3 linked regions of the Homo sapiens genome follow. The protein of the gene in region 1 interacts with the protein of each later gene in a biochemical or structural test. Each region holds a gene or a part of one and is shown in the gene's direction. Other genes may lie near its edges.

Region 1 (7,024 bases):
TGTGTGTGTGTGTGTATATATATACCATTAAAAGGTGGGCTAATGTGGCTTTCCACTACAGCTCTTACCAGATTTTTTATTTTCAGTGTGATTTGGCTGGAATATTAATAACAGTTGGTTGACATGTATTCACAATTGCATGACTTCTCTTTGGAGGCTGGTAGGTTGAGTATTGTTCTTTTTATCCATCCTTTCCCCTCCCCTAAATGTCAGTCTTTCTGCTTTTAGGATTATATTTGAATTTTCAGGGGTTTATACACCACCACTGGAGAGTAGAAGGCCACTAACTTGCAGGCAGTTAACTTATATCTTTACAAGCTACATTCTATTTTAAGAGCCTATTTAGGGTAACATTTAAAGATTTGCTTATCACTGTATTCTCATCCACTGAAATCAGTCCAGCTTTACCTTGGAGAAAAAGCAGATGGGAAACAGGCAAGGGGAAAAGCAAAAAAGAGGAAAAAAAAAAGACTGGGGTCACAGTTTCGATGAATGTTATTCCCTGTATTTGGTGAGTGGTGGGCACTAGCAGCTCAATTTCACTGCTAGCTAATAGTGGCAAATTAAGATTAAACTATAAACTATTTGACATTACTCCATTATGTATTTTGAGTCTCATGTAATTGTTTCCAGTGATTTGAAATGACCATAAACTTAAATTTGAAGGTCAGTGTTTTGACTCTTCGAAGTAATTACACTTGACCTGCTACCTAAAACGATGTAATATTACAACTTTTTTGAATAATCTCAGGAAAAATGGAGAAATGTTTATATTCATAGTTAATAAACATTCTAGATAGTAACCAACTGTCATTTACTGAAAATAAAATTTTACCCAGGTTTATTTTATTTTTGAGACGGAGTTTAGCTTTTGTTGCCCAGGCTGGAGTGCAGTGGTGTGATCTTGGCTCAGCGCAACCTCCACCTCCCAGGTTCAAGCAATTCTCCTGCCTCAGCCTCCAAAGTAGTTGGGATTACAGGCATATTCCACCATGCCTGGCTAATTTTGTATTTTTAGTAGAGACAGGGTTTCTTCATGTTGGTCAGGCTGGTCTCGAACTCCCGACCTCAGGTGATCCGCCTGCCTCGGCCTCCCCAAGTGCTGTAATCACAGGCGTGAGCCACTGCGCCCGGCCTAGCCAGGTTGATTTTAAAATTACACTTAAAAATAATGTTCTCATTTTTAAGGGCTCTAATATTTGACTTTTCTTAACTTTCCAATTATGCAGCCCTATCCTGTTCCAGACGTTAAGGCTTTCTTTTTGAATGAAAAACTTTCAGACTTTTTTCTCTCTCTTTTTTTTTTTTTGGTGTCTGCACTCCCCACCGTATCTGTCCCTTCCTCTTTCTCCCATTTTGAGGGATATTATAAGGGCAACAGTTTTATAGTCTCAATATTGAGGGTAAGACTGGTTAATAGAGTATCCAAATTGAATTTATTAAACACAGTTCTGTGTGCATTTCCTTCTGCAAATCTGAGAATAAAGTGATTACAGTTTCATCCTAAAATACTTTAAAAATCAGTTGGTTTTAGAAATAGGTTTTTTTCCTTTTGCATGTAAGAATGGACAGCTATTTTTAGGAAGGCATGCCTGTTACACCTCTAGTGGATGTTTCTACAGTTTACTATGGGACTTTAGAATAAGTAATTATTTCCATAGTATGCCCTCCTGAGTTCACTTTGATTTACTCTTTCCCACATTAACATCCGTAGTTTTTACTTATAAGCATTGGAATTTCTCATTTTACTTTGTGGTGTGGACCCATTCTGTTCTCTGCAGTGCTGCAGTTCATTTGGGGTAGGTACTTTAAAATTATTTAGTGTCTGGCAAAATATACATGCCATGTAGCAAGCTCTCTGAGGGCAGAGTTTTTAAAGTTTAAAAATCAATGGAAACTACAATGTTGTGTTAACTTTGAGATAGTTTTACAAGGTAGGTACATAGACTTTCCTGCATTGGATTGGGTAGGAAGCAAAAAAGTCCCCCCATTCACTTAGCCAAAGTCCAGCAATGCTTCTTTAATAACAGGACAGTAGATATTGTCCTGTTAATGGTTAGTGTATAATGAGCCCAAGTGTGATTCTTCCCATTTGGGAATTCTGTGAATCCTGCTGTAGGTTGTTGCCTGTCTGATTATAAAAGACTAGGCTCATGTTTTTGCTTTAAATGTTTGAGATTATGGTCTTATACCTTAGTGCTTCTGGGGCAATCTGAACATTGTTTGCTTTGTAAAATAATTTCTTTTAGAGTAGTCTCATGCCAAATTTACTGGCCTTTGATTCAGTACAGTTGGGTTTACTGTATGTAGTAAAGTTGAGACCCTGCGTAGATTGGTCTCAGTGTTAGCATTCTTGGGAGCCTTTGACAAATTTCCCGAGTTAAAAATTCCAGAAATTGATGTCCCCAGATCTTTAGATGAACATTTAAGCGAAGAGTATTAAATACTTCTCACTGTAAATTTTCATCTATTATGAAAGATACTAAAAATAATCTCGTTTTTTAAGTTTGGAATTGGGAGAATGTCATTGAAGTTTTTCAGTGCTTGTTTTTGAGATACACATACTTTGCCTTAAATCTGGGGTTTTTTCCCTTAAGCCATGTGACCCTTTCTACAAACTCAGTGTATGTTTTTAATATTTCCTGGGTACTCTGCTATCGTCCTAATACATAATATTAGGGTAAGGCTGCCCTAATACGAGAACATTTTGAGTATACTATTGAGTATACATTTGAGTATACATATTGAGTATACTATTTATGCCAACGTGAAGGATGTGATTAGTTTTAGCCTTCAAGTCATAATACATACCATGCTTGAAAGCATTTAAAAAGGAATAGAGTAATTTTTTTTCCCATTCCACTTGGAAGCTGTGTACCTCAAGTGTGTGCACATTTACAAATGGGTGAAACATAACTTATGTTAGTCCAAGCTTGATTTGACTTCAGTTCTGCTTCAACGTTTTAGTAGATAGGGCACTGAACTGGATGCTGAAAGCGTGGGATCTCTTTCTGTTGCTTCACTTCCAACAGTGTGGTTTCAGGTAATACGACATGTTTGTTACTTGGTTTGCTGATCTATGTGTTGGAAACAATGCTCACCACAGGAGGATTGACTACATAGCCTGCTTTCATAGCTTGTGTGTATTTATCCAGTGCCCTAATAGTTGATACTGCCAGTGATTTACTCCTGTGGAGTAAAGGTAAGCATGTTTTAGTTTCTGGAGTATTATATTGTACGTTGGAGCTAGGTATTTAAGAATATTTGGGGGTGGGGAGGGAAGACTCCAATTTACTGGTGGTGCTTGGCCAGTAATCAAGGTGACAGTTTAAGTATTGGGTCTTGCACTGTAAACTCCTGCTTATCTAGACTTCAGACTACCACAGAGCCCACACAGCCAGGAAGTCTGTCTCCCCATTTAGTCTTATGAGCAAGATAGATGAAGCCATGAGAAAATATACTCAAAAAGCAACCAACAGACAATGTCATGGAATGAATCTCCTACAGATTTTTCCTTACACTTTTGAAAAGTAACATGATTTTAAAACGTTGGAAAATTCATCAAGGTACAAATCATTTTCTGACTTCAGCATTGATACCTAAATTGATTTCCAGTACACAGTTTTATAGAATTGTGAATATGTAGTAATCTCAGTTAACCAGAACCTTAACCTTCAGGTTAAGGAAAATACCTATTCCTTAACCTCTAGGTAAATGGGAGTTTACCTTACAAAGCTGATTGAGAGCTTATTTAAAACGTAAACATACAAGATGTCATTGCTTCCTTGTAGTGAAGTGAAAAGGAGGTATTGGATTAAGCATTTAAAGTTAATTAAAGTAGTGGCTCGTGCCTGTAATCACTGGCTACTCAGAAGTCTTGAGGTATGAGGATCATTTCATGCCAGGATTTCTAGACCAGCTAGGCAACATAATATGACCCCTGTTTCTTTAAAAAAAAAAAAAAAAAAAAGGCTAGTGTGTTGGGGGGTGTGTTTGTAGTTGTAGTTACATCTACTCAGGAGGCAGAGGCAGGAGAATGTGTTGAGCCCAGGAAGGAGCTCAGGGCTGCAGGAAGCTATGATGGAGCCACTGCATTTTGATAGTGAGACCTGGTCTCTTAAAGTGTTTTATTTTTAGGCCAGGCGTAGTGGCTCACACCTGTAATCTCAGCACTTTGGGAGGCCAAGATGGGTGGATCACCTAAGGTCAGGAATTGGAGACCAGCCTGGCCAACATGGCGAAACCCCAGCTCTACTAAAAATACAAAAATTAGCCAGGTGTGGTTACATGCGCCTGTAGTCACTCAGGAGGCTGAGGCGGGAGAATCACTTGAACCCTGGAGGCGGAGGTTGCAGTGAGACAAGGTTGCACCACTGCATTCCAGCTTGGGCAACAGAGCAAGACTCCGTCTCAAAAAAAGAAAAAAAAAGTTTATTTAAAAAACTGTCATGTTGGCCGGGCGCGGTGGCTTATGCCTGTCATCCCAGCACTTTGGGAGGCTGACGCAAGCGAATCACCTGAGGTCAGGAGTTCGAGACCAACCTGGCCAACATGTTGAAACCCTGTCTCTACTAAAAATACAGAAATTAGCCGGGCATGATGGTGGGCATCTGTAGTCCCATCTACTTGGGAGGCTGAGGCAGGAGAAGAGCTTGAACCCGGGAAGCAGAGGTTGCAGTGAGCCAAGATCGCGCCACCGCACTCCAGCCTGGGCGACAAAGCGAGACTCTGTCCCCCTCCCAAAAAAACTGTCATGTTTCATTTATTAGATGTTTATTTTTTCAACTTCGCTTTTTAGTAGTCATTTAGTTAGGTTCATTCTAAAGTGTGAAGTAATGAGATTTAATACAGAGAAGTCTCTGAAAATGTTTGGTCCATTGTATATTAGTCTTGAATAAATGGAATTCTTTTTCACACTTACCTTGAAAATGTCATCTGTAGAAAGCTGGGGGAGAGGAATACCTATTCTTTAATGATGGGGAAATAATACCAAAATTTATATTTTTATTGACTAAAGTGTTTTTTGGGGAAGATTTGTTATTGGCTAACCTTAATGTCTCATTAGTTTTAAATAGTTAAAAAAAGTGGGCTGGGTGCGGTGGCTCACGCTTGTAATATAGCACTTTGGGAGGCTGAGGTGGGCAGATTGAACCCAGGAGTTCCAGACCAGCCTGGGCAACATGATGAGATCCTGTCTCTACAAAAAAAAAAAAAAAAAAAAAAAATTAGCTGGGCCTCGTGGTGTGCACCCATAGTCTCAGCTACCCAGGAGCTTGAGATGGGAAGATTGCTTGAACTTGGGAGGCAGAGGTTGAAGTGAGCCAGGATCACACCATTGCACCACAGCCTGGCAATAGAGCGAGACTCTGTCTCAAAAAAGTGGTTTTCATGAATTTTATACCAGATCAGATCTAAAAAGGCTGGTTAGTATTTGAACTCGATGAAAGCTTGTCAAGCTCTCTCCCAAGGTAGTTTTCATACAACTTGTAAAATACCCTAACGTGTGATATTATCTAGTTGCATTGTAACCTCCTCCCTTCCCCTTAGGTAACTAGTGACTTAGCTTTAGTTTGTCATTTTAGGATTTTAGAAGAATAATTATGATGGATAAAATACTGGAAAAATTCAGTAAGGATTTAATGGTGTGCTTGAGTAACATTACTTTAAAAGATGACAGTGATTGGTCATTTATGTTTTATACCTGAAATGTATATCAGGTTGACATTCTGTTGTATTTTTTAAACTGTCAGAACTTGTTATAAAGCCATGTATGTAAGATCATAAGTTGTTAGGAAGTGTTTAAAAGTTAAAGGATTGGCTGGGTGTGGTGGCTCATGCCTGTAATCCTAGCACTTTGGGAGGCTGATCGCTATGTCCAGGAGTTCTGTGACTAGCCTGGGTAACAGAGCAAGATCTCGTCTCTAAAAAAGTAAAAATAATACGAAGTTATAGAACATAGAAAAAGAATACTATTCCAAAATTGGGAGTGAGTATAATGGCTAACTTTTTACCTTGAATAAGGTGTTTGACAATAAAGACTTATTAGGGGAGGTATCTTGGAATAAAATAGTTAATATTGACTGGGAATGTTAAAAACCTAGTGACCTAAATAGTCCAGAGAATAAGTTTATTGATGGGGAAAAGCCAGGATTATTAAATCGGAACATTTTCCACCAGCCAGGATTGCTCCATGTATATTTCCTTTTATGTTTTAAATTATTCTTTACTAAAATTACTGGCATAAATGTAGGGTAGACCAAGTCATCAAGGTGATTTTGGAAGCTACATTTAAAGGGTCTTAGTTGAAATACCACCTAATTTTTAGTTTATATATTTTTTTACATGGACTATTTAAAAATTTCTGGGTTATTTCAAGTTGGCAGCATTGAAAATATTAGAATATGTTTATATAAAACTCATTGTGGCCTTTTCCTTTTAATGTTGGAAAGTTTATAAAGCCTATGCAGTTTTAAAAAATTAAGCCATTGAGTAAATAAAAAGTTTGCTTTATTAAATTATGTTTAGATAGTGCTTATAGTGCTTTACCCCTTCAAAATAGTAACTTCTATCAATCATTTAGGATGTGTGTCAGACTATTCTGTGTCCTTTAAGTGTGTTAACTAGTTTTAACCCTCTGCAAATATCTGAGGTATGCTCTTTTTACAGATGGGAAAACAATCTTGGACTTTAATATTTTTTCTTAATGTTACACAATTAGTAAGAGGCAGGGGGCCAGGTGGAGTGGTTCATGTTTGGAATTCCAGCACTTTGGGAGGCTGAGGTGGGCAGCTTGAGCCCAGGAGTTGGAAGACTAGCCTGGGCGACATAGTAAAACCTGATCTCTGCAAAAATATTAGCCGGGTGTGTTGGTGGGTGCCTGTAGTCCGAGCTACTGGTGAGGCTGAGGTGGGAGGACCAACTGAGCCCAGGAGGTCAAGGCTGCAATGAGCTGTCATGGAGCCAGTGCACTCCAGCCTGGGAGACAGAGTGAGACCCTGTCTTAAAAAAAGGCAGCAGTAGGGTT
Region 2 (7,024 bases), on another chromosome or scaffold:
GCGTGCCACCATGCCCAGCTAATTTTTGTATTTTTAGTAGAGACAAGAGTTTCACCATGTTGGCCAGGCTGGTCTCGATCTCTTGACCTCATGATCCACCCACCTCAGCCTCCCAAAGTGCTGGCATTACAGATGTGAGCCACCGCGCCCGGCCTGTTGCTTATTTTTGACTGGCTGTTTCCTGAAATCACTTGTCAAGCTCCAGGAAATGTTGGAGAAAGGAGGCCCAGTTCTGATCACACACACACAGCCTGGGCCTCACTCCTGAGATCTTCCTGGGCTGCTCCTGTGGGCCCGAGAAGCCTTCTTCCCGCTGGAGTGTACGGTTCTGCAGACCACGTAGTGGACGCACAGCCCTGGAGTCTGTGCGACCCAGCGTCTTACTTAAAGTCAGCCCTGGGACCTGGCTGGGGGTGTCTAGGTCCCCTTCTGCAGCTCTACTGTTGTGCAGCAGGGTGCGTGAACGCAGTGAACGCGAACAACGCATGCAGGCGCAGTGGGAGCGCGAGGAGCGTGAGCGGCTGGAGATTGCCCGAGAGAGGCTGGCCTTCCAGCGCCAGCGGCTGGAGCGGGAGCGCATGGAGCGGGAACGGCTGGAGCGCGAACGCATGCACGTGGAGCACGAGCGCAGGCGCGAGCAGGAGCGCATCCACCGTGAGCGCGAGGAGCTGAGGCGCCAGCAGGAACTGCGCTATGAGCAGGAGCGGCGGCCCGCGGTGCGGCGGCCCTACGACCTGGACCGGTAAGCAGATCCATGCTGCCCTTAGCACGTGGCGTTCAGAATCGTGTTAGGGACCTCACAGTCCAGTTAGCTTGAGATTTTTTTTTTTTTTTTTGAGACGGAGTCTTGCTTTGTCGCGGAGGCTGGAGTGCAGTGACCCGATCTTGGCTCACTGCAAGCTCTGCCTCCCGGGTTCACACCATTCTCCTGCCTCAGCCTCCCGAGTAGCTGGGACTACAGGCGTTTGCCACCTCTCCCGGCTAATTTTTTTGTATTTTCAGTAGAGACGGGGTTTCACTGTGTTAGCCAGGATGGTCTCTATCTCCTGACCTCGTGATCCACCTGCCTCGGCCTCCCAAAATGCTGGGATTACAGCTGTGAGCCACCGCGACCGGCCAGCTTGAGATCTTTCATTCAAAGGAAGCATAGGCCGGGTGCGCTAGTTCACGCCTGTAATCCTAACATTTTGGGAGGCCAGGGTGGGCGGATTGCCTTAGCTCAGGAGTTGAAGACCAGCCTGGCCAACATGGCAGAACCCCGTCTCTACTAAAATACAAAAAATTGGTCGTGGTGACAGGCGCCTGTAATCCCAGCTACTGGGGAGGTTGAGGCAGGAAAATCGCGTGTACCCAGGAGGCAGAGGTTGCAGTGAGCCAAGATCGTGCCACTGCACTCCAGCCTGGGCAATAGAGTGAGACTCGGTCTCAAAAAAAAAAAATTAGAGACAGGAGGCTGGATAAAGTAGTGCTGGTTAACTAACCAGGTTCAAGGGTGGCACAGACCTCCTGAGGAGGGAAGCTCAGGCACGTAGAGAGCGCCACACGTGCCCTACTGCACCTCCTTTAAGGCCCTTTCCTTTTTTTTTTTTTTTGAGATAGAGTCTCGCTCTGTTGCCCAGGCTGGAGTGCAATGGCGCGATCGCTGCTCACTGCAACCTCCACCTCCTGGGTTCAAGCGATTCTCCTGCCTCAGCCTCCCTAGTATTCGAGATTACAGGCACCCACCACCACACCCGGCTAATTTTTGTTTTTTTTAGTAGAGATGGGGTTTTGCCATGTTGGTCAGGCTGATCTCAAACTCCTGACCTCAGGTGATCCACCCACCTCAGACTCCCAAAGTGCTGGGATTACAGGCGTAAGCCACCACCCCCGGCCTTGTCCTGGCTTTTTAAATCCATTGTAATTTGTTTTTGCTTATTCTAGAAATAAAGAATTAAAAAAAAATTTTTTTTTGAGACGGAGTTTTGCTTTCGTTGCCCAGGCTGGAGTGCAATGGCGTGATCTCAGCTCACTGCAGCTTCCGCCTCCTGGGTTCAAGCAATTCTCCTGCTTCACTCTCCCAAGTAGCTAGGATTATAGGCATGTGCTACCACACCCGGCTAATTTTTTGCATTTTTAGTAGATACCGGGTTTCACCATGTTGGCCAGGCTGTCAAACTCCTGACCTCAGGTGATCCACCCACCTTGGCCTCCCAAAGTGCTGGGATTACAGGCATGAGCCACTACGCCCGGCAGTAAGATTAATTTTAATTTCTCAAACATACTGAAGAGGAGGTATGAACACAAAATGCTGAGCATGGCTGCTGTGAGGAGTCAGGTGTGTAATTCCAGCAGTGATTGTGTCAGGCTTTACACGTGCACTGCAACCTGGCAAAAATTGCTGTTTGTTGTTTCTTTCTATTGCATGGGTTGAAGAGGAGCCCAGGTCATATATACAATGCAACTTCTATAAAGGGCCTTGTAAACTGTTCTAGGATCTATTATGCTTTGGTACGAAATCCTTCTGATGACAGTTCATTATGGTCATCTGTGTATTGCAGCAGTACATGGCCAGGGCTGCTGGCAGGGCAGGAGGTCAGCTTTGGGGCGAGAGAGATGGCAGGTGCACTTGACAGAGCCCCTCGGGGTGGAGGCTCACGTGGTCTTCCTGAGCGGAGGTGGCTGTGTAGGGCTCCAGAAGCCATCTGCAGGCAGCCCATAGGACTGACTGCTTAACTAATGGCTCCCTCTTTGGAAAACCGAGGCCGCTTTTCATCAGGGGAGGTGGGTGCATGGGACAAAACAAAACAACTGTGCAGTCACTGGGGTCAAATCAGACCTTGCCTCCTATAGGAGAGAACACTCTTGGTGAAAGTCATCCTGGTTCTGTGAAGTGCTAGGGGCCAGCTCCCACAAAGGTGATAGATACATTTGGGGTGGGGGATCCCTCTATCTCTGTCTCATGTCCCCTCACAGGCGAGATGATGCCTATTGGCCGGAAGCCAAGCGGGCCGCCCTGGATGAGCGCTACCATTCTGACTTTAACCGCCAGGACCGCTTCCACGACTTTGACCACAGGGACCGCGGCCGCTACCCCGACCACTCGGTGGACAGGTCAGTTGGGCCCCTGCTGGGCGTGCGGGTTTTCTTTTTCCTGGCTCATTCTGACTGAGAACAAGGACTCCTGGGCTCTCTGAACCCACTCCGTTCATCAGATGTATGCTGAGTCAGACCCGCAGGTCTCCTGCCTTCAGTTAGGGAAATTATGCTTTTCATTGGGGGCCTGATGGTCCTCTCTTTGTGAACAAGCCTCTTCTTCCCCTTACGGTTTGATTTAAATTGCCTTTTCAGGAGAGAAGGTTCAAGGTCAATGATGGGAGAACGAGAAGGACAGGTAAGTCTGAAGCTACAGTGGTAGCCACAGAATTTCCCATAGAATGGGTTCTTTTCCCTTCAGCGTGCCTTCTTCCTGCCCTTTCTTTGAGCAAGAGGCAAAATGAGGAAAGAGAAAAGTAAAGCACTAGAAAAGTCTAGGTTTGTGGAATGGAAATTTGGGATTATTTGGGGTTAGTCTTGGCTGTCAGTCCAAACAGTTACTCTGAAGCTGTTTTTAGCCTTGACCCTGGGGTTCTGTGTGCCACACTCACCACACATGTGCAACAGTGCCAGGGAACCTTGGGATGTGACCTGGCTCTGCTGGGAAGTGTCTAGTGAGCCGCACAGCTGACTCAGACAGGTGCATCTGGGGAGGCTGTGGTTGCTGTGTCTGTCCTCGAGTGCCTGCCCTCTTTTGAAAGTAAGGACATCCTTCATCACCCCAGGGCCCAGCTTAGCCTTGGAAAACAACTAGATCTGTGGTCTGTGCTCATTCTCTTCGGGGGCTAGCACATTAGAACAATAAGCTCCATTTTCTCCTTCCATCTTACATTGAGACTGAGACTTCCCAGGAGAGCCTTGGACCTCTAGTGGCTTTCCCTATAAACTTGGGGGCAGCACATTGCTGTGTGGAAGATGCCTCCTCTCTGAGGACTCCACTCATGAGCCCTTCCTCCTCCTGCCAGCATTTTCTGGACTCCACCATAAGCTTCCCGCTTCTGTCCCCCTTGGTTCCTTAATGTGGCTGAGCATAGCCAAGTACTCAGCTCTGTCTCGGGATCCTCAGGAATTCCATCAGCCTCGTGGGGTTCCTTTTTCCCTGCTCCTGGAGGCAAATTATATGCAGCAAAACGTAGAACTAGTCTTGTGGATTTTCTTTGGTGGAGGAGCATACACCAATGGTTCCATGTAAAGGCTCCAGAATCAGAACTGGCGTCACACCTTGGTGTCACCCCTTCCTGCTGAGCCTGTCTCCCCAGGAGTGAAATGAGGGTAATATTCCTCCTACAAAGGGTGCGGTGGTGGGGGTTTACATGAGGTGGGCGCATCTGTACAAACGTGTTTATCATTGCCAGCTACTTTTTTTTTTTTTTAATAGAGACGGGATCTCACTATGTTGCCCAGGCCAGTTTTGAACTCCTGAGCTCAAGTGATCCTCCTACCTCGGCCTCCCAAAGTGCTAGGATTACAGATGTGAGCCAGCACACCTGGCCACCAGCTGCTTTCATGAAGGTGTTAGATATGCTCTCCTAACAGTGGAACGCGGTTTGATCCCTTCTCCTCACATACACAGTCATAAATGAGTCGTCAGAGTTACCCCAAAGGGAAATGGTAACATCTCCCTACAGAGAAAACTAGCACAGAACTTATGGGCCTCATTGAACAGTTACGTGGGTTGGTTGGACAGAAAAATGTTGGTTCAATTTTCAAATACTAAGGAGAGCTTATTTCAGGAGTCCCTTTTCTTACTTTGTTGAGGGGAGGCATCAGAGCACATGCTGGGAGGATAGGCCAGGAAGCAGGCAGTGGTAACGTGGGACATCGTGCACGTGGTGGAGCATGCCGCCATCTCTCCCTTCACCCTGGCAGAGCTCTCCGTTGAACGGGGAGGTGAACTTGGACATGGACAACAACCAGCCTGTGTCAAGGGGGTTTCCTTACCAGGACTCCTTTCTAGTTTCCTTTCACCTACAATGTGGTCATGGGGCAAAAACCCCAGAGACCACATATGTATTGGTGGAAAGAGAAAAAACAGGACTGTGGAGCCAAAGCTACCTCACTAGCTTTTGTGAAAGTCAGGCTGGAAAGTGCTTCCAGCCACAGAAATAGGCTGTGGGTGTAAATATTAACCTTGGCCATCAAATAAGTAGGCATAGAGTGTGACTCGCCCTCTCTTGGTCTTCCCTGAAACAGCAGGGTCAAGAACTCCTGGTCTGTGTTAGCCACGTGGCTTACAAAAACAATGACACAGAAGAGGGAAAGGTGGGACTAGCCAAGTGGAAGGCCAGCCGTTTATCTCTCAGTGTCCTGTGTCTTATATCCTGAGCAGAGCAAGGTGCAAGACCCTGGACTGGGCATCCAGCAGAAACTTCCGAGAAACTTGACTGTGAGGAAGGATGCTTGCCTAGCAATTGGTCGGATGAAGGGCTCCATTTGATACTTCCTTCACTGTGGAAGGAAGAAATTTGTAAAAATTATTTCCAGAATATGCACACATTAAAGGTTTATAAACCTGACCTTTCTTTAGTAGAAGACAGTAAGAGAATACTGTTGGCTCTGGGAACTAACCATTTGAGCTGTGGGACCCAGGGAATCTCTCTTGTAAGCATCATCTTTAGTGGGTGACTCCTGGTGGCCCTCCCAGCTCTGGTGGTGCTGTGGGGACCTGCCTTGGAGATGCCTTGGTACTAGTACCTTTTTTGTACCAGGCCATGAGCCTAGGGCACAGGGCCTCTGGCCTGCAGATTTCAGGAAGGCAGCTGTGTTGTGTGAACCGATACAGCCTGCCAGCACTTCTGTCCCGAGTGACTGTCGTTGTCATCGTTAGCATGTTGCCTGAAAAGCCTTGGGGTCTGGGCGCTGACACTGAAGCTTTTTTTTCCCTTCTGGCTCTGTGATGTCCAGCATTACCCAGAACGCCATGGAGGACCAGAGCGCCACGGCCGGGACTCCCGCGATGGCTGGGGGGGCTATGGCTCTGACAAGAGGATGAGCGAGGGCCGGGGGCTGCCTCCTCCCCCCAGGTTTGTGTCCCACACCCGACAGTACCTGACCCCCCCCCCGCCCACAAGGGGGCCCGCAAGTCGCTGGGATGTGGGCACAGGGTGGGAAACACAGAGGGATTCACTCTCCAGAAGCCGCCACAGTTATTAGCACAAGAGCCAGAGATGGGGGCAATCCAAATCAGAGATGTCTCTCTTTCAAGGGGCAGACGTGACTGGGGGGACCATGGCCGAAGAGAGGATGACCGGTCATGGCAGGGCACGGCCGACGGGGGCATGATGGACAGGGATCACAAGAGGTGGCAAGGTGAGGAGCAGCTCTGGGCTGGGACCAGGATGTGCTGGGGAGTGATGGAAAGATGGAGGCCGCGCCTTCTCTCCTTGGGGGAGCACAGGAGGTGCTCTGCTCTCAGTGCTGGAATGAGGAATGAAGAGCACTCCAGACACCGCCTGCTCTCTGGTGGTCTGGCCCAGGAGTTGGACAGTGGGCGTTCCCGAGTTCTCTCTGCTGGGAGGAAGCTGGACGTCTATGGTCCCTGTGCCCAGGTGTCTTCCTGGGACCCGCTAGTTGTGGGTACCTGGGGGCCTCACCAAAGGGAGTGGAGTGGGCTAAATGTGCCGTGGGTTCCACGCCGTGTGCGCAAGTTCCCTGTGTGAAAGCACGTCTGTCTTCCAGGTGGCGAGAGAAGCATGTCCGGTCACTCCGGGCCTGGCCACATGATGAACCGAGGAGGAATGTCAGGGTAAGGCATGCTGGGGGCGGCGCCCCTTCCCCCTGCTTTGCATATTGGCCTACCTTGCTGGAGGCTTAACAACCAAGTCCTTCCAGCTAGTGCCCCTCCCCCCAAGGGTGACGTGAGGCCAGGCATGGGGTACTGTGGAGGCTGCTGCCACTCAGGAGGGGAGGGCATTAGGAAGGGGCCCTGCCTGCAGGCAACACTCAGGGA
Region 3 (7,041 bases), on another chromosome or scaffold:
TGGTTATACTGACTACATTATCAGTTGAGCAAAAAAACATTCCGCTATAGCTTTGTAGGTTCAAAAGGATCGCTTGAGCTCAAGAGTTTGAGACCAGCCTGGGCAACACAGTGAGATCCCATCTCTTAAAAAAAATTTTAGCTGGGCATGGTGGCATGCATCTGTAGTCCCAGCTACTCGGGAGACTGAGGTGGGAGGACTGCTTGAGTCTGGAAGTTTGAGATTGCAGTGAGCCATGATCACCCCACCACACTCCAGCCTGGGTGACAGTAAGACTTTTTTTAAAAAAAAAAAAAAAAAAAGAAAAGAAAAAGACTTAACACTTATGAACTCTTTGTTGTTAGACTAAAATGTTTTTTCCAGGTGTGTTTCAGGCCCTCCATGTGATTAAGAAAAAATTATACTTTCCTGAGCTTCAGTTTTCTTACCTGAAAAGAAGGATTAAGAAAGCTTGTCCCAGCCACCTTATCACTGTCTTGCCCAAAAGAATCGCTGGGAAACAATGAGGATCTGTACTGCCTTTGAAACTCTTGAGGAAAACATTAGTTAATTCATGCTTTAAAAGGTAATATGCCTACTATAAGATTTTCTCCAAATTTCTGACCTCTGTTAAACATTCATAAAATCTTGGCTTATCAGGTGTAAACCAAGTCTAGATCAATCAAGATGGTCTCTGTTTCAGCTCTCTGGGGGAGGGATAAGTAGGGGAACTCGAGAGAAAACAGGTAGAAAATAAGTTTTGCCTGGCAGGAGCAAGGCCTCTGAATTTCTGACTTTGCACTTGGAGGCTGTCCCCTATTGTCTTCAAAGGTCCCCAACCCCTTCTCTATCATGTGAAAAATAACTCTGCATTCTAAGATAAGGCACTGTAGATGCTGCAAACCAGGGGTGTAGTGGAAGCATGCCCTCCATCACACTTACAGTTCAAGCCCTCCTTCTGCAGCCCTGCTGTTTCCAAAATTCCAGCAGGACAGCTGACAACTGCAGCAAAGAGCAATTATTTCTCTGAAAAAAAAAATTTCAAAGTGACTTGGTGAAGCAGGGTAAGAAGAGTTCACCAGAAGCCACCTGATAGGGTTCGGCTGTGTCCTCACGCAAATCTCATTTTGAAACGTAACTCCCATAATTCCCACATGTCATGGGCGGGACCCGGTGGGAGGTAACTGAATCATGGGGGTGGGTTTTTCCCATGCTGTTCTTGCAATAGTGAATAAGTATCACGAAATCTGATGGTTTTATAAAGGGCAGTTCCCCTGCACACGTGCTCTTGCCTGCCCCCATGTAAGATGTGCCTTTGCTCCTCCTTCACCTTCCGCTATGAGGAGGCCTCCTGGGCCGTGTGGAACTGTGAGTCCATTAAGCCTCTTTTTCTTTATAAATTACCCAGTCTTGGGCATTTCTTCAGAGCAGTATGAAAATGGACTGATACACCACCTCTGCCAAGAATCTGTACATTGTCTAATGTGTTTTTCGTCTCACAGTAAGACCAAATAATTGATGTATCTAAAATGCTACACAACAACAACAACAACAACAAGTTTTTCTGACCTGTTGGAGAGGAATGAGGCCAACTATTCCTGCCACTCTCGTTTCTCCTTTACATGTACCTGTGAATAATAAGCAAATATGCTGTCCTATAATATAAAGGTGACCATATCAATTAGGAGCACATGTGTAAATAATCTAAAGATGGTTAGTTCAGTCTGCTGAGGTTTATGCATGCACAAGTCATGTTCATTTGTGATTCTCTGATACAATTTAGTAAAGAAGCATCCACACCTAGTTTATCTATTACTTTGGGGATTAGTAACCAAGTTCATTCTCAACTCCTGGAGCAGTAAAATCCGATTCTTTTTCTAGAGAGAGAAAAAAATATGTGAATACTTGAGACAAAAGCCAGAATTCAAATAACTGCAAATATCTAGGTGAAAATGGATTCATTACTTTCTCCTCTGGATACCTAATTAGTTAAGAAGATCTCCTTCTGTAGAATAAAGTATTTTAAAAGTTCATGAATTCCTGGGGGAAAGAAGAGAAACAGGCATTAAGTGTCTGACCACCCATGTCTCAACACGCTAGGCAGTTATCCTTCTTGTAGCCCTCACAACAGCCCTGCGAGGACTGGTTATTTTATCTCCTTATAGATGAAGAAACTTAGGCTCGAGAATGCTGGAACATCTCAGGGCACAAAGATGGGGGCAGAGAGAAGGTCTGAGTCCGGGGCAGATAGGCCTTCCACTCCAACAGTGTTTACCAGACCAGAATCACCTGGGAGTACTTGCGGAAAATACAAAATCCAGCAAGCCCCATTCTCTCCACGCCGCTCATCAACAGGAAAGCTTGGGAAAGACAATACTACTTCACGACCCAGTCAGGAGACCCGAACTTGTTCCATTCCTACATTCGTGACTTCTCCACCCAAGGACACTCCCCGCACCCGCGCCCCAACGCCTTCACAAAACCCAACATATCCGCGATCAAACCTTCAACTCTCCCAGTGGCCCCCAGAGGTCCAGAGCTTGGAATCTTCTTCTGCCTCCTCACCTCTGAATCCCGCCATTCTTCTCCCTCCTGTAGAATTTCATTTCCTGGCTGGGACCAGGCTCTAACCATCAGGCTTCCAGCCGGGCCCCGGAACTTGCAGCCCGCTCTAGCCTGTCTGGCTCCTGCCCGAGCCCCTCGGCTCCAGCCTGCTCTCATCCCAACCCTGCCTCTTCCGTCGGTCACGTTGTTTCCTCCGCTTGGAAGGACCTCTTTCCTCTCCGGGCCCTTCCCAGTGCTCGGGGAACTCCTACACAGCCTGCGCTCCTCCGCTTCCAGCCACCCTCGCCTCCCACCACCCTGGCTTTGGAGCTGAACCGGCCGCGCAGCCGGGCGGCGACCATCCGTCCCCCGGCCGCTGACCCCAGCGCTCCGGCCTCGCCGCAGTCCCTGGCCCCTCGGCGTTCGTTTCCCCACCCGCCACCTGGCTTTCGCCGCCGCCGCCCGGGAAGCCCTCGGCACTTCCCAGAATAGAGAGCAGCTGCCAACGTCAGGCTGCCGCCTGCCGCGGGGTTCCGGACACGCGGGGTCTGGGCGGAGAGGACGTGACTCCGCGCTGGCCTTCCGCCTTCCCTCCCCGGTCGGGAAACTGAGGCCCGGGACCGGGAACCACTTCCCCGCGAGCACGGTCCGCGAGGGCCCGGCCAACCCCGGTCCTAGGCGTCCCGACTCCCGCGCGCGATCCTTCGACCACACGCGCCGCTCGGTCACCTCAGAGAGCGTGGCGGGGAGCGGGTCTCAGAGCGAGCGCACGGCCCGGGAACGCGCAGGGCGCCAGCCCCGGCCAAGTCGCTGCGAAAGTTGTTGTCTCCCAGCCTGCCCTCGCCTCTCACCTCCGGGACACACCTTCCCGCTTGCCCTGGCAGCAGCGCACTCACATCCGGTCCACCTTGCGCACACCCCTCTCCGCGCTCACTCGCAGCCCCTCTCCCTCCCACGCCCGCGGCTCCCCGTCGCCCCCTCGCGCGCTCCCACCCGCGCCCGGGGCGCGCCTTCCCCGCCCCGCCGCTCGCCCGGCCTCGGCGCCGCGCCCGCCCGGGGTTCCGGCGCCCGGAGCCCCAGCCCGGGGCCGCGACCCGCTTCCGCCCGCCTGGCGCGGGGCCGGAGCCCGAGCAGCCACTGCCGAGCGCGGTGGGCGCGAGGCGAGGGGCGCAGCGGCGCGGGGCGGGGAGGGGGCGCTCGCTCGCTCCCTCTCGGCTGCGCACACGCCCGTACAAACTCTCACACAGACACACGCGGGGTGCGCTGCCGCCGCCCGCCGCTGCTCCTCCTCCCGCCACCGCCTTGAGAGGGAGAGAGAGGGAGGCAGAGAGAGCGCTTTGTCCGCGCGCCGCCGCCCGGCCCGGGACTCTGCCCCGAGGAGGCAGCCGCGCCGAGTCCCCGCCTCCGCCTCTGCCCCCGGGCGGGCCGGGCCGGCCGCGGTGGGGGGAGCCAGGCTGAGGGTGGGGGTGGGTGGCGGGCGGGCGGAGGGCGGGGAGGGGGGGCGGAGGAGGAGGAGAGACGAGGGCAGCGGAGGAGGCGAGGAGCGCCGGGTACCGGGCCGGGGGAGCCGCGGGCTCTCGGGGAAGAGACGGATGATGAACAAGCTTTACATCGGGAACCTGAGCCCCGCCGTCACCGCCGACGACCTCCGGCAGCTCTTTGGGGACAGGAAGCTGCCCCTGGCGGGACAGGTCCTGCTGAAGTCCGGCTACGCCTTCGTGGACTACCCCGACCAGAACTGGGCCATCCGCGCCATCGAGACCCTCTCGGGTGAGCACTCAGCGCGGCCCCCTCCCCCCGCCTCGCCCCGCTCAGGCCGGGACGGCGCCGGGAGGGAGGCCGAGTCCGGCGGGCGGCGCCCGGCGGCGGCTCCCGCGCCCGCACGCTCACTTCCACGCACCAGACCCTCAACTCTCGCCGCCGGCCCGCTCCTGGGACGGCCCGCTCCCCTCCCCCCACAGCTCTGGACTCTGCCCTCGCCCTCGGGGCCGCAGCCTTGGGGCGCCCCCCGTGCCGCTCCGAAGGCTCCCGAGGCTCGCCGGCTCCTTAGGGGCACCCCTCGTTCGCCTGGCGCCCCGGGCTGCTCTGAGCTTCCCCGCCCCCCACCCTTTGAGCGTCCCCTGTCTCACTTCTCCCCTGACCTTCCTGTCACCCCCTTTGTCAGGGTCCCCCCTTCCCCAAATCCAGCGTCTCTTCCTCCTCCCCCGGCCGGACCTTCTCTCTTCCAGTGCCTCGTGCCCAGAACCTCTCGCCCTCTGGCGTCTCCTGAGCCGCACTCTCCTTTCGAGCCCCCTCCCCACCTCGCCCCACGGCCCCCCACTTTTGGCACCCCCTCGGCGCCACCCTGGTGACCCCCTTCGAGATCTCGGGGCTCCCCCAGCCCCAGCCCTCGCACGACGGCACATCCCCTCGGTCCTTTCCCGAACCTCAGTCCCCTCTCGCTTGCTCTCTCAAGCGCTCCTATTTTTCTCTGAATTTTTTGTCCGATTTTATTGAGAAGAACTCGGGGCTGGGGGCTTTCCGCCGCCCGTCCCCCCGCCTCCCGCTCGGCCAGAAGCACCTTTTTACGAGGTGCCCTGTCTCAACTCGGTGGGGGCCAGGGTTGAGAACCGGGAAAGAGGCGACCGGGGGGCCCGCGAGCGCGCTGGAGCCCAGACAGGAGACGGAGAGCGACACACACACACACTCGCGCGCGCGCACTCCCCAACTCTCCCCAGCACACGCTCCGCTCCCAGCCGCGCGGGCCCCCGGGCCCCGGCCGGCGCCCCCCGAACCCCGGCCCGGCGGGAGCCCCTTCCCCACCGGCGTGTGGAGTGGGGGCGGGGCGGCGGCGAGGCCAAGGTGACACCCAGGAGCGGGCAGGGACAGGGCTGTCGCTGCGGCGGACTCCGGGGGGCTTCGGCTCGTTTTCTCGGGGCCACCGGGAGGAGAGGGCAGGGAGGGGAGCCCGGTGGAGCCTTCGGGCCCCGGATTAGCGGAATGGAGAGGTGGGGGCCGGGAGAGCAGCGGGGCCGCGCCAGCCCTGCAGCTTGAGTTTCAAATGAGCTCATCCTTTCAAATTGGCGCCGCTCTTTATTAAATTTGTTTTTCCGGTAATGCCACCCACGGCTATACCTGGGGTCCGACCCGGGCTCGCACCCTCCTCGCCTTGTCCCGAGACACGGGGCGCCCACCTTTCTTTCTACTGGGAACCAAGTTCGCCCAGCTCGATCCGGGTAGGAGACCCCTTGGGGGCGCCCGAAGGCGGAGCCCGAGCGTGGAGTTCCGTGCGTGCCCCCCCTAGACCCCCGCGGGCTTGATCTAAGCAAGGTTCTGAGTGCTTTAATTTCTGTTTTAAAGGTAAAGTGGAATTGCATGGGAAAATCATGGAAGTTGATTACTCAGTCTCTAAAAAGCTAAGGTAAATATACTTTGCTTAGTTTTTTTTTTGCGATTGGCCTTACGTATAAGTAAAAAACGTACACACAGCTTTAAAAAACGTGCTCTTGGTAGTTTTTAAAGGGGCTTTTGTTTGTTTTGTTAGTGGAGATACATAGTTTAGAAAGCTACTTTTTTTTTTTTTACTTTCATTATATAAGGTGTTTACTGTTCTTGGAAAATATCTGGTGCCTAATTGGGGGTCGGGGTGGCGAACACCAGCTATGTTCAGTTCGCTGGGACCCTGTAACTTGTTTATCAAAAATTGCCTCCCACCCCCACCTCCCGCCCCTACCCCCAGCAGAATAGCAGCAAATGCTTGTCAAGACTTCCTGTGAGATGTGAAGAGTAAATATTTACTATGTCAGCTAAATTGCTTAACTAAACTTAGCGATTAATTACTTTTCTCTTTTAGATAGTTTAATGTTGAATAGTAAAATAATTCAGTAAGGGGTCAATATTTTGCATAGCTTTCTAAAGAAGTGGGTTGTTTGGATTGGATGGCAGTTAAAAGCCGGACTTTTTCAGTCACTGAGACTACTGAGTATAGCTTCTGAGCATTTTGTTGTTGTTGCTTGTAAGAAATGTTTGCGGCTAAAATAAATACCCTTGTGAAATCTATAGTTATATTTAAGTGCACTGTTGTTAATGACGGAGTAACAAGTTTTGTGGAGGTTGGATTTCTCCACAGTGATTTGCTAACATGAGAAGAGAAGAGAAAACATCTTTGTTTAAAGTTTATTGTGGACTTTAAATTTGGGCCCTTTATTACTCATTCTAAATTTTTTTCTTCTGCTGTGTGTCGAAACTTAGTTTATATCCCATTCACATACATTTCTTCACCATTAGTCATTAAGTAGCTGGACTGGAGCTGTTCAATGAAGTTTTTGATGACCACCTTTACAGTTTATCAGTCAATAGTTTAACCACCTGATTTTTGTCAGGATTGAGTAGATTTTAAAACAAACTACCCTAATTTTATAAATACTTAGATGTGTTGCTGAAGGGATTTTTAAAAATTGTGTGCCACATTTCCAGATATGTTTTATTTTAAGTAAGCAACAGAATAACTTTTGTTTGCAAATAATCTCTGTGGCATAT

What was found. Proteins that work in one complex are often made in the same cells at the same time.
Region 2: the proteins of HNRNPD (region 1) and SAFB form a complex in vitro, tested with the Homo sapiens proteins (one study listed by BioGRID).
Region 3: the proteins of HNRNPD (region 1) and IGF2BP2 form a complex in vitro, tested with the Homo sapiens proteins (one study listed by BioGRID and IntAct).

The regions. Positions count from the first base shown.
Region 1 is NC_000004.12:82,363,973-82,370,996, reverse strand, and holds part of HNRNPD (heterogeneous nuclear ribonucleoprotein D0), read left to right. Parts: intron 1-7,024. UniProt on the Homo sapiens protein: Binds with high affinity to RNA molecules that contain AU-rich elements (AREs) found within the 3'-UTR of many proto-oncogenes and cytokine mRNAs.
Region 2 is NC_000019.10:5,661,067-5,668,090, forward strand, and holds part of SAFB (scaffold attachment factor B1), read left to right. Parts: intron 1-451; coding exon 452-742; intron 743-2,955; coding exon 2,956-3,093; intron 3,094-3,330; coding exon 3,331-3,373; intron 3,374-5,979; coding exon 5,980-6,098; intron 6,099-6,280; coding exon 6,281-6,384; intron 6,385-6,753; coding exon 6,754-6,820; intron 6,821-7,024. UniProt on the Homo sapiens protein: Binds to scaffold/matrix attachment region (S/MAR) DNA and forms a molecular assembly point to allow the formation of a 'transcriptosomal' complex (consisting of SR proteins and RNA polymerase II) coupling transcription and RNA processing.
Region 3 is NC_000003.12:185,822,035-185,829,075, reverse strand, and holds the start of IGF2BP2 (insulin-like growth factor 2 mRNA-binding protein 2), read left to right. Parts: upstream 1-4,033; 5' UTR 4,034-4,115; coding exon 4,116-4,293; intron 4,294-5,662; exon of another isoform or gene 5,663-5,738; intron 5,739-5,862; coding exon 5,863-5,923; intron 5,924-7,041.